4 separate regions of the Homo sapiens genome follow, and all the other regions are linked to region 4. The links come from fine-mapping of genetic effects on gene expression. A gene starts in region 4. Each other region holds a variant in brackets. All regions are shown on one strand. Distances are from middle to middle. Region 1 overlaps LOC105370324 (a long non-coding RNA gene). Region 2 overlaps MBNL2 (muscleblind like splicing regulator 2). Region 3 overlaps RAP2A (RAP2A, member of RAS oncogene family). Region 4 holds the start of RAP2A (RAP2A, member of RAS oncogene family).

Evidence for each region. PIP is the estimated chance that this variant, and not a neighbour inherited with it, causes the effect.
Region 1: its variant is the best candidate, but not a certain one, in a credible set for the expression of RAP2A in iPS cells (HipSci, PIP 0.60).
Region 2: its variant is the best candidate, but not a certain one, in a credible set for the expression of RAP2A in monocytes (Quach 2016, PIP 0.75).
Region 3: its variant is the best candidate, but not a certain one, in a credible set for the expression of RAP2A in neutrophils (BLUEPRINT, PIP 0.89).

The regions. Positions count from the first base shown.
Region 1 is chr13:97,527,237-97,533,394 of GRCh38, forward strand. It overlaps LOC105370324 (a long non-coding RNA gene), which reads right to left. Exons shown (of 6, transcript XR_007063845.1): 6 at 4,518-4,937. Among named protein-coding and RNA genes, the nearest start is that of RAP2A, 96 kb to the left of the region's middle. The variant T/TGC (reference allele first, on the strand shown) is at 3,365.
Region 2 is chr13:97,381,636-97,387,793 of GRCh38, forward strand. All of the region lies in intron 8 of MBNL2 (muscleblind like splicing regulator 2), which reads left to right. Among named protein-coding and RNA genes, the nearest start is that of RAP2A, 49 kb to the right of the region's middle. The variant C/A (reference allele first, on the strand shown) is at 3,381.
Region 3 is chr13:97,467,055-97,473,212 of GRCh38, forward strand. It overlaps RAP2A (RAP2A, member of RAS oncogene family), which reads left to right. Exons shown (of 2, transcript NM_021033.7): 2 at 1-2,074. Among named protein-coding and RNA genes, the nearest start is that of RAP2A, 36 kb to the left of the region's middle. The variant T/C (reference allele first, on the strand shown) is at 2,800.
Region 4 is chr13:97,430,633-97,436,790 of GRCh38, forward strand. It overlaps RAP2A (RAP2A, member of RAS oncogene family), which reads left to right and starts at 3,537. Exons shown (of 2, transcript NM_021033.7): 1 at 3,537-4,152. The coding sequence starts at 3,839. RefSeq lists enhancers at 2,634-2,773, 2,721-3,652, 2,924-3,053, 3,074-3,123 and silencers at 3,274-3,633, 3,654-3,713.

The DNA.
Region 1 (6,158 bases), 97 kb after region 4:
GATTCTCCTTAAAACCAAAACTTCTCCCAAATTAAGACCCTCATATAGGGCTTCTGGGGACCAATCTCTCTGACTCTTTCAATCACGTAATAATTAGATTTGGGCTGTTAAAAGATAAACTTTGGCACAATTATTTTTGGAAATATGGGCTAATAACAATGACGTATCAGCTGAATCTAGGACTTTTTCAGGTGAGCTCAGTGTCCCTAGAGTCTATAAAAGGCTTCGTCAAGTTGTTTTCTGTGACTCTAGCCTGGTAACTCATATCAACATAAATACAACTTTGCGTGTGGTTGATTCATATCTTCTCAAATGCCTAGAAATATTTGAGCATGAGAGAGTATGTAAATATCAGTTCCAAGAGGGACAGGCTACTGCATCTCTGACTGCCTGCCATGGAAGACACCTAGCAGATAGAGAACACACAGCACGCCATGGGATTGGAGTCCCCACCAGGCCAAAATGGAGTTTGCAGGGAAGCAGCTTCAATTTTCTTCAAGTAACTCAGTTATCTTCGAGTAGGACGTAAATTATTTTCTAAAAAAGCATAGATGGGTTGATTGGCTTCTGCTTTTCTGTTGTTTTTGTTTTTTTGAGATGGAGTCTCACTCTTGCTCAGGCTAGAGTGTAGTGGCATGATCTCAGCTCACTGCAACCTCCACCTCCTGGTTTCAAGCAATTCTCATGCCTCAGCCTCCCCAGCAGCTGAGATTGTAGGCATGTGCCACCACGCCTAGCTGATTTTTGTATTTTTAGTAGAGACAGGTTTTCACCATGTTGCCTAGGTTGGTCTCGAACTCCTGGCCTCAAGTGATCTGCCTACCTCGGCCTCCCAAAGTGCTGGAATTACAGGCATGAGTCACTGCACCCAACCAGACTTCTGCTTTTGTGGATGAAAATTTTTTTAAAAAATTTTGGCCGGGTGCGGTGGTTTACGCCTGTAATCCCAGCACTTTGGGAGGCCGAGGCAGGTGGATCACGAGGTCAGGAGATCGAAACCATCCTGGCTAACACGGTGAAACCCCATCTCTACTAAAAATACAAAAAATTAGCTGGGCGTGGTGGTGGGCGCCTATAGTCCCAGCTACTCAGGAGGCTGAGGCAGGAGAATGGCGTGAACCTGGGAGGCGGAGTTTGCAGTGAGCTGAGATTGTGCCACTGCACTCTGGCCTAGGTGACAGAGTGAGACTCCATCTCAAAAAAAAAAATTTTTTTTTTGTTTGACATGTCTAATCCTGATATTTTTGTATTCTTTGATGGATCAGCCTTCTGCTCAAATATTTCAAGGCAATGGAGAAGATCTTTACAATGTACAAAGATTCATGTATTTCACTAAGAGTATCAGGCTACAGTCTTCAGTAGGAGGATTAGTCCAAAACAACCAAGTCAGCATCCTCAGAAGCTGCTCCTCTTGTCATGTGTCTTGAGAATTTTTGTTGTGATCTCATATTTGTTGCGATTCTATGTGTGAAACTTCTGTGAGGACACCATGAGTGGTTCATTTCTCTAGATGACTTGCATTTTCTAAGTGCCTGGGGGTGTGATTTCCAGTTTGAGCATTTTAGAAATCTATTAATTTAAAAGTAATATTTTTATTATTTGTGAATAAATTTTAGTTTGTTGCTTTTCAGTCAGAGAATGTGGCCAATAAAAATGTTATTTTGAAACTTCTTAATTTTCACTGTAGTCAGGTAAATGGTTTATTTGCAACTGTCTGATAGACATAGTGAAGAATGTGCATCTTTGTCCGTAGGGCAGAAAATTATCTACATACCTAATTTTAAATCAGATTTATTGATCATATTATTTGAAATATCTTTACTCTTGTTTAATGTTCATTGATTTAAGTGTATTATAGTTTCTGGTATGATTTTGGATGTTATAAGGTCTCTGTATTTCTAGTTTTTATTTGTTTTGCTTTATGTATTTAACTGCTATTTGGAGACATTGAAATTTGTTAATTTATTGTAATTTATTATAGATTATGCCTTTTATCTTTTCCCCATACAATGCTTTATGCCTCAAACTCTTCTTTATCTAGTATTATGTTATAGCAGCTTTTTTTTCTATTTTGCTTAAAATGTCTTAGTATATTTCATTATTTTCTACATTTCTTTACTATTCTATTTTAGTTGAATTTATTTTTAAACAACACATAGCTAGAATGTGTAAGCATTCTGTTGTTTTTTTGTTTTGTTTTGTTTTTGTTTGTTTGTTTGTTTTGAGACAGGATCTAGCTCTGTTGCCCAGTGGTGCGATCATGGCTCACTGTGGCCTCAAACTCCTAGGCTCAAGTGATCTTCCTGCCTCAGCCTCCTGAATAGCTAGGACTGCAGGCGCATGTCACCATGCCTAGCTATGAAGTTGCTTGTCTTTTTATATAAGAAAGCATCTCTTCACTTTCATTGTGATACTTAGTATCTTTTATTTTTCCATTTTACTTTATGTTGATAATTATTTTGTTGTTTCTTCTTACTTTTTTTCCTAATTTGCTGTATTATTTTAAATTTCCACTCTAATTCTAGAAATTAGGAAATTCTCTCTCTTAGCTAGTAGTTTCCTAACTTTTAAGTCACAAAATCATAGATATGTGGTAATAAATTTAAAGTAATCGTCCCCATATCAAGATTTTTATTAATCTGCTCTGGAACCAACTTTGTTGAGACTTATTTAAAACTGAACTCTTAACCTAAGTATTTATTCAGTATATATTAGCAAGTGCTTACTTCTGGGAATACACATAGGATTTCATACAGAGACATGCAGTCTTTCTTTTCTGTTAGGGAATTATTACTTACCTCACATTACAGTTCACAGCCACATGACCACCATCCTTTAGACTTCACTATGTGTTTTACAGGACTGCTCACTGCGGTTTCTTGTATTCTTCATCTTCTCCTGTCCTGAGATCTAGGTTATCCTTAAATTCGGTTTGGTTGGAATATATAAATAAGAGTGTTTCCTTAAAGAGAGTGGGCCATAGCATTTTTAGTAATGGCTTTCTTCTGTTCTCACATTTAAATGACATTGTGATTCATCTCAAAATTTTGTAAATCTTTACTGTTTTCCAGTTTCCATTCTGTAGTGAGACTGATGCTAGTCTCATTCTCCTCTTTATGTAACAGCCCTTTCTTTGCACGGGGAAGTTTATGAAACTTTATCTTACCGGACTTCAGAAGACTCACTTGGATGAGATTGATTTCTTTGTCATTGTTATTACAACTTCCTGGTGTTAGCTGAACCAAAAGCAAGGTCTCGTTCAGCACAGGGAAGTTTCATCTATTATTATTATTTGTTGATCAGTATTTATCTTCCATATATTAATTTCTTTGTGTGTGTGTGTGTGTGTGTGTGTGTGTGTGTG[T/TGC]GCGCGCGCACGCGCGCGTTTTGAGACGGAGTCTCGCTCTGTCGCCCAGGCTGGAGTGCAGTGGCGCTATCTCGGCTCACTGCAAGCTCCGCCTCCCGGGTTCACGCCATTCTCCTGCCTCAGCCTCCCGAGTAGTTGGGACTACAGGCGCCCGCCACCGCGCCTAATTTTTTGTATTTTTAGTAGAGACGGGGTTTCACCGTGTTAGCCAGGATGGTCTCAATCTCCTGATCTCGTGATCTGCCCTCCTCGGCCTCCCAAAGTGCTGAGATTACAGGCGTGAGCCACCGCACCCGGCCATTAATTTTTTTCTTAAATGCACACCTATGTCTTCCATGTCTTTTGTCTTTTCATCTATGGTTCCCATATTTTTGCATCTATGCTCTGGGTTGTGAGCTATTTCCTCCACTTGATCTTTCTGATAACCAATGTGATTTTCATCAGGAACTGCTCTCTTTTCGAGTTCATCTCTTAACTTTACATCTAGAAATTAGGCATTTTTTTTTTAATTCCAGAAATTTTATGTTCCCTTATTTTATCTCCTGAAGACTTCTCATTACATTTTCATTAACTCTCTAGTCTGTTTTTCTATAAATTCTGTCTCAATAGGACCTAGGTAATCCAGTCATTTAGGCCTCACAGTTTATTGAAATAGTCTGTTATTTTCTTTTCCTACTCAGGCCAGTGAGTGTGGATTTCTTCAGTGAGAAATAATGCAAGTCCAGCTTGGGTCTTGCTGGGGATAAAGAACTGACAGGCCTGTTTTTTTCTTGCTCAGAGTAGGATAAAAGACATAGATAGAACAGAAAACATGCCTGCTACTTTCCCTCCAAAAGGGCTCTCTAGTGAATCAGTTCATAAGCTAAGGCATTTGGGCTATGACGTGAAGCCCCCTCTATTTTCAAGATTTTGCAGGTTCCTCAATCCAACCCCTTCTGTCCTCTCCAGGTCTGCTGGAAATGCTAGATCATCCCCTAAGCAGGCAGATGCAGGACTCCTTTGGAAAGATACACTCTGGCCAGCCCCTGGTACAGTAGATCCAGATGGCAGTGCATACCCAAAGACTCTGTAGACTCATAACTTATAACCTTGTCATGACCCCCCAAAGCCTGGAAACAAATTTTGTTCATAAGGAATGTGGAAGAAAAAAAGATGACAAATAGAAGCTGTTTATTATCTTTCACTCCCAAGGCCCTACTACAATTATAGAGGGAAAAAATTGCAAAGGCGTAAACAACAAAAACAAAAAATAAAACAGGTGATATCAAGGGCCACGTTTTTTTCATGTTTTTCAAATGCAAAGTAGATGGGGATTGATTTAGGGATTGATTTAGCGAAGGAGAAGAGGCTGCTGCTGTTGAGAGCAGATACTGGTGAGAGGAGAGCCCATTCACCCTGCCCAAGTGGAGGCCTGGAGGGAGAAGACACGTGGCAGGGGAGGGAGGCTTTGGAGGCAGCATGAGGTTGGGTTGAGAGTTTCCATCCAGGAATCCAGGAATGAGCAATGGAGCAGCCTGGCACCAACTTTGCAGGCTGCAGGAGGCTGATTTCTGGCCCTCTCCTGAAGGCCAATCTAGAGCAAATGGTTTGAAAATATTATAATTACATGAAATTGAAGAAGAAACTCCCTGATGATTCAGGTGATTAAACACTAGAGTAGGCTTTCAGATAATTCAGAGGCCTGAAGTTAGAATCTTATTCCAGTGTACTTTGCGGCATCCTTTTTGGAAACAGATGATTGGACTAGGTTCATTCATTCATTCATTTGACAAACAAAAAAAAGAAAGGCATCAGATACCAAATCCACTTCATATCTGTGATGCCTGAAGGATTAGGGGGCATTAGGAACAGTGAGTACTGGACAGTGAACAATTATCTGATTATAAACCATTAAATACCAAGATCCACAATATTTATTTGTTGTCTTTCATTTGCCCAGAGTGAAGCGAAATAAAGAGAAGGAGAAGTCCGTGATGTATTCATTGTGTGTAGTTTGAGCTTGTCTCTGATAGGGAACTAAAGAAATCAATTTAAAGGAATTAAATGATAACTAATAAAATTATTCAATGCAAGTAGCATTCCTGCAACCTGTTTCTCAGGGACAATCATGACAAGCTAAATACCCTACACTTTATTCAGTTCATCCGCCATCTCTCACAGGTGTCAATTTATGATGTCACCACTTATTTTTCCACCGTTGAGTTCCTCTGGCCCACCCAAGTCAGAATTCCACCCCCACCTCCTGATCACAAACTTTTCTGACAGAAGTCATCATCCCATTATTCTCTCAATTGCCAAATGCAAGGAACTTTTCTGAGCCTGTGTATTACTCCATTCTCACATTGCTATAAAGATACTACCTGAGACTGAGCAATTTATAAAGAAAAGAGATTTAACTGACTCAGTTCCCCATGGCTGGGGAGATGTCAGGAAACTTACAATCATGGCAGAAGGGGAAGAGGCATGTCTTACATGATGGCAGGAGACAGAGACAGCGTGCAAGAGCAGGGAAAACTGCCTTATAAAACCATCGGATCTCATGAGAACTCACTCACTATCACGAGAACAGCATGGGGAAACCACCTCCATGATCCAATAACCTCCCACTGGATCCCTCCCCCTTGATATGTGGCAATCCTGGGGATTACAATTCAAGATGAGATTTGGGTGGGGACACAGCCAAACCATATCAGTCTCTCTCTCCTTTACTCTCTCTGTCTTTCTCTGATACATTAATCAGCCCTGATGTCTCTATGGCATAGGGTCATGTTGACAACCTGCTTTACCCTGACAT
Region 2 (6,158 bases), 49 kb before region 4:
TTTTTTTGGAATTCCCTTGTTGCTTTAATTTTTTTAACTTTCACGTTTATTAAATTTTTATTTTTCACTCCTGAGTTGCCAGTTCCTGTTCTTTAAAATATTCCAGATATACTTATATCAACAATAACCATGAACAAAAATAGATATATTAGGAAAATATTTTCAATGTATACAACAAGGTAGGTCTTAATATTATGTTACATATTATATTAATTAATATTATGTAACATATTGTCTGCATATTACATATATTACATATTATGTTACATAATATTAAGACCTACCTTGGGAATACAGCAGTGAATACAGTGCTGATTTTTAAAGGTATAAAAATGTTTTCTCAGATTCTACTTTATGTCCAGGAGTCATCTTCAGTGAAGCAGCCTATTTAATCTCAGAGAGCCTCACTTCCTACACAACTTACTGTAAATATTTTAAACACTTTCAAATATTTTCTTAGTGTGTCCCACATATTATATATTTTTTCTTGATTTAGTAGAGGAATTTATCCTGCTTTAGTACACATACAGTCCCTAATTTTAAACATATTCAAAATTACCTTTGTCATTTGGTTTGAAATTCAGTTCTCCTACAGAGACAGCCATGGCCTTGGTGGTTAGATCTCTGGGCTGGCCTACAACCATTTTATTTAGTTTGTGGCATTTTTATAAGTAACACAGTGCTAAAGCATGGCCCAGGCCAAATGCCACTCATGTCTATGATGTTGCTATATCTTTGGGATTCAAGAAACATATCACCAAACCCCCAGATGTCCATGCAACAGAAAATAGAAAATTCCGTCACCTCCTCCACCTGCTGGAGCTGTGGAGGCGCCATAATCCCTGGTGAATTCCATGACTAGAATGTCATCCGGGGAAAGCCTGTGGAGTCGGAATGGGAAGTATGGTGTGGAATCACAAATGTTGGGTAAGGAATAGGAAGATAAAATCTCGGGCCTGCTTCTGGGTAGCCACCAGACCCATTCACACCACCTTCTTCCCCATTTCTCTTGATGCCATGGTTTCATCTGCCAACTATTTTTTTTTTTTTTTTTTTGAAAAGGGTGTCTCACTCTGTCACCGAGGCTGGAGTGCAGTGGCGCCATCTTGGCTCACCACAACCTCCAACCTCCGCCTCCCGGGTTCAAGTGATTCTCCTGCCTTAGCCTCACTTGGGCCATGCCTGGCTAATTTTTTTGTAGAGACAGGGTTTCACTTTTTTTTTCCTGGCTATCATGCAGTCCTTCCAATCTAGGGTTTTGTTTTGATTTTACCTTTTCTGGCACCTGCTGAGGAAACACAGTCGCATAACTCCCCTCCTTCTGAATAAATACACAGTGCTCTTGAATATGTCTTTGCTTAAAACACTTCTAGAACGCCAGCGGAAAGGGCCAGGAAAGAAAAGTCTCCTTCTCATGCCTCTTTACCTTCATCCTCATTTATATCATATAGGAGAAGAAAAGTGTTCACCCTTGGATGACATATGGGTTGTTAGATGGTCTGAGGACAAGATTCCCATCTCAGCATGAGAGCCACAGAAATGATCCTCAGAATTCCCCCAGGGGAGCTAGGATTGAAGGAGACTGTCTGGAGTCAGGGAGGGGATTATAATCAAAGCCTAACTGCAATACTCATAAGAACCTAGATGTTTTTACATGTGACATGGACTCATGCAAAGAGCAGAATCTTATTCAAAGTTGAGCATTCCCGTTTATGAATTTTATCCAGATACTCTAAGTTGTCAATGTGAACCCTGGTCAGTAATCTTCAGCGAGGACAGTATTATTGCTTTTCATGTAAAACGTCAATTATTAATAGTTTTAAATGACAATTTTTCTTTAGTATATCTAAAAATATTTTGTTCAAATATAATCAAGTGGAAAATATTGGACAGAAATGAGTCATCCACAAAAAGTATCATTGAAACTAGGGGAATTAGAGCTTTGAATATAAACTTTCTACTAAACAGCAGAGGACAAAACAATAATTCTGGCAAAACTCCTCTTGAAGGTGCTATGAAATATTACGGACATTACAACCTCAGTGTGCTCTTCTCCAGAGTAAAGCTGATTGTCATATTTGATAATTTTTCCCCAGGACCTCAGTGTATGCCTTTTCTGTGCAAATAAAACTACATTTTGAAAATAAGTCAAATATGGCATGACACTGCCCAACCTCCGAACAATATTCCCCCAGAATAATGAATCAGACTATTTTTAAGTGTCTTTTCATATACTACTGATGATCTCTGAGCTTTTTATATAATTAATTTTTTTTTTTTTTGAGCGGGAGTCTCGTCCTGTTGCCCAGGCTGGAGTGTGGTGGCGCAATCTTGGCTCACTGCAACCTCCACCTCCCAGGTTCAAGTGATTCTCCTGCCTCAACCTCCCAAGTAGCTGGGATTACAGGCGTGCACCACCACACCCAACTAATTTTTGTATTTTTAGTAGAGACAGGGTTTCAACCACGTTGGCCAGGCTGGTCTCGAACTCCTGACCTCAAGTGATCTGTCCACCTAGGCCTCCCAAAGTGCTGGGATTACAAGCATGAGCCACTGCACCCGGCCTATATTTAAAATTTTATAGTCATGAAATAGGCCAAAGAAAGTTCTTGAAAGTGTACATTTGTTAACATGTATAATTATAATTGCTTTAATTACTTTTTTATCTGATACCATATATTCACTAAGAGACTAAGACACTTCTTTTGACTTCAGTAATCCATACTGTGATTAAGTACTGAATTATACTGGAGTCAAAATGTACACATGTCCCTTTGCCTCTGTGCAGTTTGCTTCAACTGAAAGATCTCACAAGTGTAGCCTCTCAGGCAAGATCAGGGCATTTCAGACAGTCATGGCTGCTGTGGAGAAGAGGTGTGGGGCAGTGGGGAAAAGGTGGAGAGAATATTAAATGGTGCACAGACTAAAGGAGGAAGCAATGCTAACAGAGAGTGGGAAGAAGGAACTTGTGAGACAGAATCAGAAGAAAACACTGGATGAAGAAACACAGACTGGGAGGGTGAGCAACGTGCGAGCCTCCTTAGCTTAGCCCTATTTTTAGGAAATGCCAATTAATTGCCTATTTTTAAATTAATAATAAATTTTGTTTAAAGAGGCAGTGAAATATTATTAATATCTTTAACTGCCTTCTGGGGAAACAGGGCCTTGTAACCATGGCAAAAGATTTCTAAGAAACCTACCAAGTCTAGAAGGTTACTTTAGGTGAATTTTTATCTGCTGTATTTCCCTTCTCTGTGAGTGATTCTGCCCCCAGCCTGGAATATTTTCCCCTTTATCTATAATGGGGAGTAGGGAGAATGGGAGAATGGGGAGGGAATGTTTATTTCTCTTAGATATTTCTGAGTCCTTAACTACCCTAA[C/A]AAGGTGCACAGATGACACATCTTGTGCAAAGGGTTCTTTTTCTGCCCCATTCCTGTTTCTCCCATGAATGGTCTGGTGGTCTTCTGTTGATGCCAGCATTGTGGCACTGTGTCTTCAATGACTTCAATTTATTTAGCCATCCATGCAAGCAACAATTAATAAATTCCCAGCCCTATCCTAGATACTGGGGCTATAAAGATGAATGAGACAGTCCCCCTGTCCTTAAAGAGCTTGGTTTGGCTGTGGACCCAGTTAGTGCACCAGCCCTGCTTGGAAGTACCCACTTGAGATTCCATGTTAGTGACATCAAGATGCATTGAGATTCCTTAGTAGTTTAGCAAGGCTGCACAAATATGTTATAAGGTATTTTTTATCTATGCCATCCAAACTCAACATTACAAAGACAGTCCTAATGGCTATTCACAGGAAGACTGAACCAAAACATCCATTATTTCTCTTTTCTAATTGCTTGATGACTTGCATATATGGAAATTCTTGGCATTTTCACTGGAATGTTTTCCTATCAATTAAGCAGAGCAGGAACAGTTCTTACCAAATTTAATATTGAGCTATCATTTTAAAAAATAACTCATCTGACATCCTTGAATCTTTGAAATGAGCACTTTTACATAAGAAGTATAAACACTTCTAGAAGTCACCTAGAAGCCCACAGTTTCCAAAGTTATACATACGTACAATTCCTGGAGATCAACCTCAAGGTAGAAAACCCAGAATGTATTAATACTTGGTACCTCTGAAATACTAAGGAAATTCTACGTTGATTTGTCTTCTCTTGCACCATTCTGCATGAGGACTGGTTAGTTCAGCTGTTAAGTTCATGGTGCTGATTAGTTCAAGTTCAGTGTTTCAGTCTCTGCAGAGACTATTTTGCTTTGAACCAAGTGTGTTTCTCACCCTGTTCAGCTCTTTTTTGAGCGCACATCATGAGTGACAGGTATGGATGGCTCAGCCTAAATCCATCATCACATGGCAGAGACAAGAAAACATGCATGTTTCATAACTGATGACTCAGTCAAGGGAGGGTTGGTATTTTCTTTTTAGGTAGAGGGTGCCTTGTTGGTCACATACTCTCTTTCTTTGGGCGAAAGCCAAATGTCTGAAAGTTGTAGGACTAACTCTCCTGTAAACCTGCTCTCCTGGTCTCACTCTTACCACTGCTGCCTGCCATGATGTTGCCTGTAGCGTTGGCTGATGCCAGCTCAGGAAGCCATCCAGACTTAGTGAATATAGTGGATATTGCCTTCAAGAAAGTAAAGCTGATGAGGACACAAACCAGCAGCTCTTAGCTGAATTTAGCCCAAAGATATATATGATCCTTCTGTGATGTGAATTCATTGCTGAATTTCCAGCTTCTTTTGGCAAATGAAAAGGTCAAGTAATATGGAGCCCATGTTTCCGCAGGTAGCACTTGGCTGGGGCTGAGTGGCTGTTGCCACACCCTCGACCTGGCCTATTCACTTACATATCTTTCCTGCCTGGCCCCAGGAGGCTTAGTATTAGACAGTACCTAATCTGGTCCACTTTTTAGTAAGGTTGGCTACCACTGCACTGTGAGTCAATGGCAGGCAATTCACTGAGGACACTATAATTATTAAATGGCTGCTCATAACATATTTGATAGAAAAATAACCCATTTGATGCTTTTGAAGCCATTCATGCTTTGTCTTCAACAAGTAAATATGAAACTAATCAGGTACTGGATTCACATTGGGGTAACTTGAGAACGTATATTGAGCAGAATCATCAGATTCTTAAATCCAACCACCTAGGGGAGACAGTTTAATTCACTTAATGTGATTTCCTTTCCTTATTGATAAGCAGACTCCATTGTAGCCAGCTGATATTTTTGCATCAGAGATACTCTTGTTCCACCCAGAGGGGCCACTGAAGATTTAGAAAAGTACTCATGATTTGAGATCAAGTGTATCTTTGCCTTAAAAACAGAATCACAGATACTGTGGGCATCAGCTATTCCTATTTTTGTCTGTTCTCCTTTTAGTGGAAAAAGGAATTGAAAATAATGCTTGCAGTTCAGAATTTTGATTTACCATACTAGATTAGCTAGAATCTTATTTAATAATTTAACTTCCTTCTCCTGTCATGGTGCTTTGTTATATAAAACACTACTTACTTGAGGCAATAGTCTCCCAGGGAGACAAATAGAAATATAGCTTGTTGAATATCTTTGATTTCTTTCCTACCGTCATAGTTTGCCAAGATTTCTCAGCAGCTGAGGCAGCGGCACTGTGGTGCGGTAGGGTGTTCTGATGCTATAAGCAGACACGTTTGCAACATCCATCTGGAGGAGCCCTGGGGCAGGATGTGGTTGACCACCCAGGCAAGGATGCCCTGAATGAGAGGCCCAGCAGCCTCACAGTCCCCCAGCAATTTCCACCCATCTAGCCCCTCCAAACAGTCTCACTGTCTCCCCTCTAAAGCTCCAAGTGCATTTGCTGTAGGTTCCACCCCAGGGCCTCGCCTTCCCCTGATTCCCAAGCTCACAGGGGTTCTTCTAAGCACCCTCTGAAGCAGGCTCCATGAGGCACAGCCATGCTCTTTGGAACCTCTGTGTCCCGTCGCCCTATCTCAGACCGTCCCCATGCCCTGGAGGGGATGCCTTCACCAATGAGCAGAGTGACATCTCCAAACTCATGCTGGTTTGTGCAAGCACTTTGTACATTGTGCAAGCCAGTTAAAATTATGCACGTCATCTTTTCCATGTCTGCAAAATATGATCACAATACTGACCTAGCTTG
Region 3 (6,158 bases), 36 kb after region 4:
TAGATAAGTGAAAGTTTTTCTAACATGCCTTAAAAATATTATGGTTTGATCCAAAGACCCACTTTTTCTTTAGCTCTTGTGATAAGATTTTCTTTTTTTTACTTTTATACAAAGGCAGCATCTTTGAATTTTTTTTTCTTTTGATGTTGCAACTTTTGGGTTCTTTTAAACTGTGATAGTGATGGTAACTGATGCCTTTCATTTTGTTCAACTTATACAAAACAAGCCAGCATCTGATCAAAAGTATTACATAAAATATTTTCTTAAACTATTGAAAGGTGCTTTGATGATTTTCTCCTTTGGTTTGTAGAATTAGGACTGAACTTTTGACTCAAATTGCTACAGTTGCCATCACCTTTCTGTGGTAATACTACTGATATTTGCTTTTCTATATAAAGAAATGTTGCCTAAGGCTGTCTGGTATTTCTTTTCAAGGGTTTTCCAGTATGAATGTTAATGTTGTCAGTGTATGTATGAATATGAAAGTGCTTTGTTTTGTTTGTTGCTGTTTTTTGTTTATGTGTGTGTTTTTAATTTTTTTGTTCTTATCAGCAGTCTTGTGTTAGCACTGGGTAAGCTTTAATTGTCCCTTAGCCAATCAAACATTAAGGACTATGGAGGTCTTTTTTTTTTTATTTAACATGTCATTGTTCATCTATTAAATCTTGATCAGGGTTTCAAGAATGACTGCAGTGGGTTTTGGAAACAGACTTATCATTATTGATTTGAGGTTTCCCAGAGATATAGTTCACAGTTAATTGTTGCGCTCTAATACAACTGACCATTTAAAATTGAACAAGTTTATTGTTTTGTAACAATGTCAGTTGTTAAACCTTGACATTTCAATTAAAACATGAATTGTAGTTATAACTCAATGCAAATTCAACAGTTGTATTTGGAGTTAAATTATTTTAACAAATAAATTTATTTAATGAAACTCTGGATTTGCTTTGTTTTGTACATGCTCATGAGAGAAATGTATTATATACAAAAACAATTAAAAATTGCCATATAATGAATTTAGTACTCTTCATACAAAAATATTTTAGCTGATTTGAGAGTTCATCATATAAAAAGGCAGGTAGGTAGATAATTTTCATAGTCTTTAAAAATAAAAATAACATGTAAGAGACTGTAAAATCAGTTATTATAAATATAAACTTATCTCTACAAATGATTTTATATTTTGAATGGTAGCTGGTTAATTTAAAGCCTGATGCTAAGGTTAACAGAATTGTTCAAATAATTAACATTAATTAGCAATATCACTAAAATGATTCAGAGGCCTTCTAGTGATGGCTTGAAGCCGTCTTTCTGTTTTCAGGTCATGTGGATCCGAAGGTGCCAGAAGCTGAAGGTTGCCGCCAGGCTGTAGGGCCTGCTTGTTCTATATGGGGCCCTATGAAAGTTGACAGATGCTGTTAATTGTATACAGCCTTCAGCTGCTCTGATAAGGAGCCCATTCATTTCCTAAGCCAATTTAAACTATGCCTTTTGGTTATGTTGCCTTCAAACTCTGTTGAAATCCTCTGGCAGCATTCCACCAGTTGAGAAGCTTCATTGTTTTAGATTATAAGAATAATTTGAATGAATATAACAGAGGCACTGTAGATAGAATCCCAGATATTTAAAGGAAAACATGCCTATATTTTAGGAATATCTTCTGAAGAACTTCATAATTTTATTTGAAGTGTTTGTAAATTTTTTAATAAATTATTTAAATGTATCAATAGTGGATAGTTGGAAGAACGTCTTTGAGGCTAAAAAGTAGTACTCTGAAATTCTCTCAAGTTATATTATTTGTCTGTTAGAGGTCCACGAATGAAAATATATGTAGCTAAAGGAGTAAGGTGCTGCCCAATTTGGAACCCAACTGACCTCTAGGATCTATGAAGCAGAGAATATTACCACAAACTTCTGAAAGAAGCTGTTGACCTCGTTTCTTAATTTAAAATATGTTGCCACATAAATACTAATAAAACATAGTTGCTCTTCATCTCTTAAATGGATCATTCCAACTGGTTTTACATCGTTGAATATTATCTAGTATTTTTAATAAATATTTTCATAAATAGTTTTTGTGGTTTTTTTGTTTGTTTTTGAGACAGTCTCGCTCTGTCACCCAGGCTGGAGTGCAGTGGTGTGATCTTTGCTCACTGCAAGCTCCCTCCCGGGTTCACACCACTCTCCTGCCTCAGCCTCCCAAGTAGCTGGGACCACAGGTGCCCATCACCATGCCTGGCTAATTTTTTGTATTTTTTAGTAGAGACGGGGTTTCACCATGTTAGCCAGGATGGTCTCGATCTCCTGACCTTGTGATCCTCCCACCTTGGCCTCCCAAAGTGCTGGGATCACAGGCGTGAGCCACCATGCCTGGCCTATAAATAGTTTTTAGATAATATTCAACATCCCCAACATCGAGGTATTGAGTTTTAAAAGATTTGCTGCTATTCTAGGTAAGACGCTGTGTTATTTCTTTCTATATTTTCTTAGTAGTCTTCATGTTAGCCTCTAAGGATTCCTCCAAGATTTCTCAGCAGAGAAAAAGGTAGAGGACTAGCTGCTTGAAAGAGTAAATACGAAGACCTATTTAGTATGTATGAGTTGGGAATAAAACTGAAGGAAAGATTCTTGGTTTAGCTTATGGGGATTTTTTAGTATAAGATCCTCCCATTTTAAAAACTTCAGTATCAATGATTCATATTTACAGTTTTACACTATTTTGAGTGTGATGTGCTTTTATACCTTTAAAAACATCAGGATTAGTGAAGGGAAGAAAAGGTCACCCCAAGAGGATCA[T/C]GAGGTCAGGAGATTGAGACCATCCTGGCTAACACGGTGAAACCCTGTCTCTACTAAAAATACAAAAAATTAGCCAGGCGTGGTGGCACACACCTGTAATCCCAGCTACTCGGGAGGCTGAGGGAGGAGAATCACCTGAACCTGGGAGGCAGAGGTTGCCATGAGCCGAGATCGCACCACTGCACTCCAGCGTGGGTGACAGAGGGAGACTCCTTCTTAAAAAAAAAAAAAAAAAAGTCACCCCAACTTTCAGTTCCCCAAAACAGCCATGTTAACAATGGATGTAAATCATTCCCAGCATCTTCCTATGCACATATACATATGCAAGTACGTGAACATAGGTAGAAGGATAAATAACTCGATGTTACTTTTGAGAAACTGGCTCTAAGTACTAAAAATGAATCACTGAAAGTCACACAGCTAATAAAGTGGCAGAGTTGAGTTTCTAACTCTGCCACTTAATTTCTAATTCTTCTAACAAGCTCCTAACTCTAAATGACCTTTTCCCCACTGTTAATCCTTTCACTTAAATTGAATCCACTCATTCCATGCTCATTCAGCTATTATTTATTGAGAGGTTACACTTGCATCTGGCACTGCCACAATACAGAGATGGTCATCTACACATAAACCCTGATGTCAAAGACATCCTAGTCCTGTCTTCTTGCCATTCCTTTTTCTCTTAAGGCAGATACAGTTTAGTTTACTAGCAAGAAATAATTTGTACCTTCCCTACTTTCACATGTCAGCATCCCAGTAAACCCAGGCTGAGCCGAAATTCCAGACACAGCCCCAGAGACTGCTGCTGGCTCTGTTCACTTTTCAAGATCGGTGCATCAGCCTGAGCTAGTCCCTCCCGGGATCTTGAGGTGTCTGTGGGACACAGTAGACGGGGATGGCAATACAGCAGGGCTTCAAGGCTCTACTGTTACAGGCTGGGTCTACTTCTCAGGAAGAATTCAGAGTAAAAATAGGATTAGTGAGGGGCAGTGGGGATACAGAGGCAGGTTGGGGACAGCAGGGCAAAGGGTTCTATGTATCAGATACTACACTGAAGAATAAATGCTGGGTCCATGCCTATAGTTAAATACCAGGTGTTTTTAGGTTTCAGTGAGTTTTTTTAGTTTAAAATGTTGGTTTGTTCACAGCACAGCTCTGTAGTGTGTTCTGAAGAGGTCTTATACCATGAGAGGGTTTGCTGAAAACGATGATAGAGTCAAGCAAGTTTGGGAAACCCCACATAACACATCTCACATCTTGGAAAAAACTCAAATTCCACTCATGTCTCAAAAATAACTAGACCCCAGGACACTTTCTTTCAATTATACATAGTAGCACTCTCTGGAGCACAATTTGGAAAATGCTGCTATTAGATATTTGGCCTCCAAATGCTGATGTGGGAACTCTGTCCAGGTGAGGGGACCTGGATCGGTTGTGAGCGTGAGAATTCCTCTGACCCCTGTAGTCTCTAGAGGGATGGCAGAGAAAGGGAGAGGGTTGGGTGCAATAGCTCATGCCTGTAATCCCAGCACTGTGGGAGGCCAAGGTGAGTGGATCATTTGAGGTCAGAAGTTCAAGACCAGCCTGGCCAACATGGTGAAACCCTGTCTCTACTTAAAGTACAAAAATTAGCCAAGCGTGGTGGTACATGCCTGTAGTCCCAGCTACTCTAGAGGGTGAGGCAGAAGAATTGCTTGAACCTGGGAGGCAGAGGTTGTAGTGAGCCGAGATCAGGCCACTGCCCTCCAGCCTGGGTGGCAGAGGGAGACCCCATCCTAAAAAAAAAAAAGAAAAGAAAAGAGAGAGGGAGAAGAGGAGAGGAGGCAATCTACAGTTGATGGACATTGGAGTCATTCCCAGTTTGAGTCTATCATGAATAAAGCTGCTATGAACATCTGTGTACATGACTTTTGGTGGATAGACACAATACTCACTCCTAGGTCACTATCTAGGAGGGGAATTGCTGAACTACAAGACTTGATTGTCAACTTTGGTAAACATTGATAGTTTTATCAAGTGGTTGTACCAGTTTACATAAACAAGCAACGTGTGAGTACTCCAGTTGCACCATGTCACAGGATGGATTGCCTGGGAAGAGGGCTGTGATACAGAGCTTAGTGTGCAGGATGCTTATTACCAAATGTCCTTGGGATTAACTCCTGTGGAAGGGAGTAGAGGAAGTAAGATTGGCCAGAGGGAGAAGTTGTGTGATGCAGGGCCAACAACCCCCAGACAGAGGGAGTTAGAATGGGGCCCTTAGAATTGTCCTGAGTTGGGCTCAGATGGTTTAGTCCTCTGTACCCTCTGCCTGTCAGTCACTGTGACCTTGAACAAGATGCAGAGGCAATCCCTGAAGGATCAGAGAGTGAAGGTTGTCAGCATTCTCAGCAGCAGGGCAGCAGTTACTTGACTGAAAGGAGGTCCAGGTGGTGCCTCATGGCATCTACCAACTCCACCTTCCACACACATACCTGGCACTGTCAGGCTTTGTCATTTTTCATTTCATTATTCTGGTGGGAGCGTGGTGGTATGGCATTGTGGATTTCACTTCATGTTTCTCTAAGGCCAATATATTTATATGCTTATTGGTCATTGGTTACCCTCTTTTGTGAAATGGCTATTTATGTTTTTTGCCCATTGAGTAAATGTTTTGTTTACTGTTTCATGAAGTGACTCAAAAAAGATTTATTTAATCTTTTACTTACATATTTGTAGGAGTTCTTTACATTTTCTGGACACGTGTTTATAAGTACAGTGTACTATCCCAGTCTGAAGCTTGCCTTTTCACACTCTTGTTGATATCTCCTGATAAACAGAAGTCCTCACTTTTAATGAAGTCAATGCACCAATCTTTTATTTGATGGTTAACTGTTTTTGTGTTCTTTTAAAGAAATCTTTGCCTACTTTAGGGTTGTTCTTGACCTCCAGCCCCTCAGGGGTATGCTGAGTTGACCTTATGAATATGATAATAGGAAAATAACCATTGTAATCATACAGTTTATTGAACAGTGATACACCAACCATCATCATCAGTCTTTGTTTCATATTATTGATGAAATATTTAAACATTAATAGAGCTGGCTCTTGGCCAGTGTTTCTGCAAATGTGTTCCATCAAGTACTAATGTTGAATAGGAAAAAGATTTCCATGGTCGAATAAGTTTGAGAAACACCTGCTTAAACAAAGTTAAATAGGCTCTTGTGGTTTTCAATATCCTAATGTGGATTATGTAACATTGTGAGATATAAATACATTATGTTCTGCAAACTATTTAACCATAGGATGCTAGCTTTTCTTAGAACATGTCACAGGACTAGTATTTCATAGTTTGGTAAATACTTCGCAAGGCAAAGGGTATG
Region 4 (6,158 bases):
GTCAGGAAGTCCCAGAATACAGTACCTTTCCCACTTCATACCACCTTTTCCAACACCTTTTACAGAAAGAAAGGATGGACTTGGGTTTCCACGGTAACACAAGTGCGATAATTGAAGGTATCTGGCTATAGGTGAGATAACTCCCTTTCAGATTTAGTGGAGAGAGGAGAAATGAAGATTTTCTTTCTTTTTATTCTCCTGGCAATGCACTTTGGAAACTAAAGGGATCCTGCAGTGTCAGTTACTGCGTTAAGTTTTCACTATCTTACAGATTTACAGCTCTTGGGAATAATTCAAATTTCTTTTATATCATTTTTATTTTTTATTTCCCACAAACAAATGAAGATATAAGTTATTTCTATAATCATCTCAAAATAGAGTTTATGCTGGCATCGGAATGAACATGACTAAGGGGTTAGAAAATAGACATCCATCTCCCACCCAAGTCCTCTAAATTCTCTACACGTCCTGACATCCTTTTTATAGCAGCTAATCTTTCACCCAACATTTCACCTACAACCACAAATCAGGTAAGTACCATCATTTAAGCCAGAATAGGTGAGAAAATATGCTCCGACCTGTCATGTTTCTTTTGCCTCTTGGTGGTTAAAAATCAACCTTTATGGTACTGAGCATGAAATCTGAGGCCTGTCAATATAAGGCCTGTAAATAAATGAACTGTAACCACCCCAAGGGCTGCAGTCTCTATACCCCTTCTTATCAAAAACGTCAGCATTGATGAGAGGTCAGGGGAAATAGCCTGAGAAATGTCACAAAGCTGTCCTACTCTGTATTATGCTAAATGGAGTGACTACGGAGCCCACTCACTATTTTTGTGACAGCTTCAATCCAGAGCTTCTCAACATCTAGGGACCTAGGAGTCATGAAAACAGTTACTTAAGGCAACCTTCTGGACCCCACAATCCCAATACAAATTTCTCAAAAACATTAATCACTGGAACTTCATTCCTTGCAAAGTAAATGGACTTAGAGCTCCTTTGTAATGCAAGGTACTAGATGAGTTGTCATGATCTAGAGAGAAAGCTTCACGCTTCCTGGCTCTATTTAACAACCCTAAGAACTTCTTATCACCAAGATGCACAGTTAGAATCTTAAGACAGTCTGTCTTTCCTTGGAAAAGAAGTATAGCTTCTACTAACCCAAAGTAACCATGAATAAGCATACCAATTTTACACAAAATATGAGACTTCTGGAAAGCTAGGTGAACACCATACTTACCTACATCCTCTTGAAACATCCCTGCCAAAGTAGCTCAGATATGAAGCATCCATGTAAGCTCTTTCAATTTTAATTCACTATTTCATGTTAACTAGCCTAGGATGAAATAGTAGATCCTCTTCGGTTCCAGTTCCCTTAAAACAGTCCTGATTCTTAGTCCTTTTTATTAATATAATACCTTCACTGCTGATTCTGGTGGCTCAGATAGTACCATTCATATTTTAATGATATGTAATCAAGAAATGCTGAGTTATATTTTACTACATACACATTTTTAAATTCAGAGGACATTTGTCCTTGATAATTTTAAATGAAAACTTGGTGTGTGTTCATTACAGCAAGGTAATGCAAATATAAGTTATCCATTCTAATATAACGAAGCTATAGGGAAATAAGAAACTACTAAATTTGAGTAGTCTTTGTAGTAGTTTGACTATCGACAGAAAAGATGGTGAAAGAATACCTGGCTTTTAACTCAGACCAAAATCCCCTCTGCATGATGACCTTGTGGGAAAGAGGAACGGGGAGAGGTATGCCAGGCTCTAACAACAGAACTACAGAAACGTGTTATTCGCAGGAAATGTGCGACAGTAACGAACAGGTGAGACTAGTTTGAGAAGGACATAGTTTAAAGAAAGTAAACTGAATAACCAGTTACTGCAAAAAATAATGCAGGAAAGCTTGGGGATGTATCGTCTCCTAAATTTGACGTTATGGGTGGGAGAGGATGTGTAACTAAGATGCAATGCTAGCGACAGAACGCTAAGTTTTAAAACTCAATAGTGAAAGAAAAAAAATAATGTTTTGGGAGGAACGCCTGGAAGACCCATGCAACTGCTGCACGATGTTTCCTTAAGGACCGGAACATTTCTCACCCTGAAGACAAAAGTCCCTGTGTTCTCGATTCAGCCCACATCCCTCAGCACCATTTCCATGCCCATCATTTAGGCAGAATGCCACGGAGGCGACGTGAAAAGTGGAATTCATCATTCTGGCTTGCAACGCATCTTGTTCTTTTGCCAGAACAGGGCACAGCAACTGGCTCCTCAATCTCTGCCCCTCCCAAACCCCAGCAGCCGGTCCCTGTCTCCATCCCGCCGGCCTCGGTGGCAAGGGGCTCGCGAGCTCTGGTTGGCTTGGCCGAAGCTTCCGTCACTCGCCAGCTCACCTACGATTGGTTGGCAGAGCGTGCGCGAAGAGCCCCGCCTGGCAAGGCACTGGGAGGTGGGCTTGCGGATCCTACGACTAGCGTTTTTCTCGATTGGTTGAAGGAGTAAAGGCACGTGGTATGGGGGCGCTCTCTTATTGGTCGTGAATGGTACCTTGTGGTACAGAGACGTGATGTGGTTGGCTAGAATGAATCCCAGCTTCCCACTAGATGCCCCTAGCTGGCTGTTGCTATGAGGAGTCCAGGGCCTTCCGGCTGCCGTTCGGGATTCCGCTCTCCAGGTTTTCAACTCACCCGTGGCTGACAGGGCGTGGGAAGAGCTCGACTTCAGTTCGGCACCGAAAGGGGCGGGTCTAGAAGAAATGTGGGCGGGTCCAGAGGGTTGGTGGGCGGGACCCCGGCGACGTCAGCGGGCTTGGACCCGACTTCCGTGGTGTGTGGCCGCCTCTGACTCGCCCCTCTGGCGCGCTGCTAGAGGGGGGCGTCACCCTCCCATCAATGTCCTAACGCTCCAAAGCTTCATTTTGTTGCGTTTACACAACTTCAGTCAGAAGCCTGTAGGTGCCCCCCCCTTAAAGCTTCACATGCTAATACAAGATAAAACCAAAGCTCTAGGAGTGCTGACAGACTGGGTGGCATCGGACAAAGGCCCTCGCGGCCCCTCTTGGGCCTTGGGCATCTCTCCTTCACTCCCCGCCTCAGGATAAAGCTTGGAGGTAGCTCTAGCCCCTCTACCATCTCATCCCTTCCGAATTCTTAATGTCTCGGGAGTCTCAGGTTGACGCTGCTCCTGGCTTGGGCGGGAACTGCGCATGCTCGGTACACAGGCCCTGGGGTCTGACTGGGCGCGCTGGGTTCGGCGCTGCTCGGCGGTCGCGGTGCTTGTTTATCTCCGCGCGGGCAGAAGCTTCCGAGCCCCGCAAAGCCTCTCGGGAGCGCTCGCGGCCCGTCGCCTAGGGGGCGGGGGCGGGGCTGCGCCGCGGGCTCCGCCCCGGCCGCCGGACCCCGCCCCTGGCCGCGCTGCGGCTGGGGCTCGGGCGCGCGCTCGAGCGCTGGGGGTAGCGGCGGCGGCGGCGGCGGCGGCGGGCGGGGATCTGGGCGTGGAGGCGCGAGGGGCGGGGCGGGCGGCACTGCGGGCCCGCGGCTCGGGCGGCACCAGCGGCTCCCGGTCTCTCTCTCTGCTCGCCCTCAGTCCCACCCGGTGCCTACGGGGCCGCATCGCCGCCCGGCTCGGCCCGGCCCATGCCCAGGGCCGCTGCTCCCTCAGTTGCCGCCGCCGCCGCCGGCGCCCAGGGGGCCGCCGCGGCTGTGAGGTGGGGGCGGCAGCGGGAGGCGGCGGGGCGGGCCGCCGGGGCCGGGGCTGGGGGCGCAGCGCGGCCGGCGTAGGTCTATGTCGCGGGCGGCGGCGGCGGCGGCGGCCGCGGAGGGACGATGCGCGAGTACAAAGTGGTGGTGCTGGGCTCGGGCGGGGTAGGCAAATCCGCCCTGACCGTGCAGTTCGTGACCGGCACCTTCATCGAGAAATACGACCCCACCATCGAGGACTTCTACCGCAAGGAGATCGAGGTGGATTCGTCGCCGTCGGTGCTGGAGATCCTGGACACGGCGGGCACCGAGCAGTTCGCGTCCATGCGGGACCTGTACATCAAGAACGGCCAGGGCTTCATCCTCGTCTACAGCCTCGTCAACCAGCAGAGCTTCCAGGACATCAAGCCCATGCGGGACCAGATCATCCGCGTGAAGCGGTGAGCGAGGGCACACGGGGGCTTGGCGGCTGCACCCCGGAGTCACCGTCCCGGGGCTGGAACTCCCCGCGCGGGGCTCCGGGGAAGGGGCTTTCTGGGGGGTGGCTCCAAGCTGGAGGCTTTACTATTGTCATTCTGCTCCTCCTCCTCAATCTCAAATTTGAGTGCTTTGTTTCACAACTAAAATTTGGCATCGTGTTAGCCCACAGAACAGCTCTTTGTCTCTTGGACGTTGTTAGCATTGCTTGTTACAGAGCCCCCAAGGAAACAAAGTTTAAAACTTGCAGGGGGGAAAGGGGTGGATAGATTTGTCTTGGGAAGAGAGGAACTGTGCAGGTATAGTCGAGACATTTGCAGACTGAACAACAACAATCTGCCTTGGCAATGTTTGACAGTAAAAATCGCTCACACACCTATACAGTAAAGTCAAGTCCAGAGGAAGGAGACCTTTCTCATCTCGTTAAAGGTTTATGGTTCCAAGGCGTTTTACAAAAATTAAGTCTCTAATTTAGTGCAAAACTTTAAAGACAGATTATTAAATTATTTGAAGACATCATAAGCTAAATGGGGTTTCGAGAATATTAACAGAGGAGTACAAATAAGCCATTCACAGGAAAAGAATGCAGCTTAACTGTTTGTTTTTGTTTTTTTGTTTTTAATATAGCCGCCTTAACCCCTTCCAAAAAAAAAAAAAAAAAAAAAACACCACCACACCACCACCACCAGTTCCTGGAAACAAAACAGAAGCTTCTTCAAAAGTGTGACACAAGTATTAGCTAATTTAAAGTTAATGTTAATAAGCCTTTATATATATATATAAATTCTTTTCTAAAGTATACATTTTGGAAATATGGCTGATAAATGATTTAAAATGTTTGTTTTCTCTTAAATTCACTGAATATATTTTTCCGTGTAATTTTAAGCATTAGAAATGTGATAATATCTTAGTTCAAAGTTTTGGCAAATTTTTCTAATTATCATTTAATTACACATTACTGTTTCATCTAGTTCTTGTTAGTTAATGCCTGCTGATAATTTTGGTGTCCTTTTTTTCCTGCCTTATTCTACCTAGAGCCTAAATCTGAAGACCTTTACTGAAAGATGGTTGTAAGTGCACCGTAGACACAGTCACATTGTAAGTCAGTTTGAGTCCACTCATTTTGAAAGAGCAAGGACCAAGTTATGTGTACCCAGGGGATGATCAAAAATTCATTACGAGTAGTGAGTTTTTAATGCAACCTATGAGATCAAAGAGAAGGCTCTCTCTCTATTGCTCCACCCCCCCTTAACTGAGTATGCACTTTAATCGCTGAACTAAAATCGTGCATGTTATTCATCCTTGTGTTAAATTCCAAACTAGAATAAAGCAGATATTTTCGTGGTCTCTGCTGCTAAGATTTGTAAATTTGATAGCTTTGTACTTCTCCAGTATCATTTTCCTAAAGTTAAATGTTTATAGTTAAGAGATGAACAATTCTGGTGTTAAACTTAGTATGAGGATGGCATTTAAGGGGCTACATTTAAGTTACTTAAATTCTTATTACCCCCTCCCCCAACCACTCAATTAAAAAGAAACAAACCAAACCAACTGCAGGGTAGTCTGATACATTGCCACATGTCAATGTTAGGCCAAATGCATACATCAAAAAATAATCTAAGTAAATGCCCCAACAGCCTCACCCTTCACATTTAGATATATATGCTTAAAGATATGAAGATGCACATATACACTGATAAAGCCACATACCCATGGCTAACTTCTTGACACAAGCCTAGGGAACAAATATGGCAAAATATTATTGGATAATATGGTCCACATAATTTTGTAGTTTCTTGTAATTTAGTGCAGATTACTTTTCTCAGTTATAATAATAGGTTAGTCTAAACTCAGCATATTGGAGCAATTTGTTTATTTTCACTATGACCCAGAGGAAAAACATAGAGTAAAATTCTGCATGCCCAGTATCATTTTACTCACTAGTCTCAGTTCTTGATATAAAAAGATC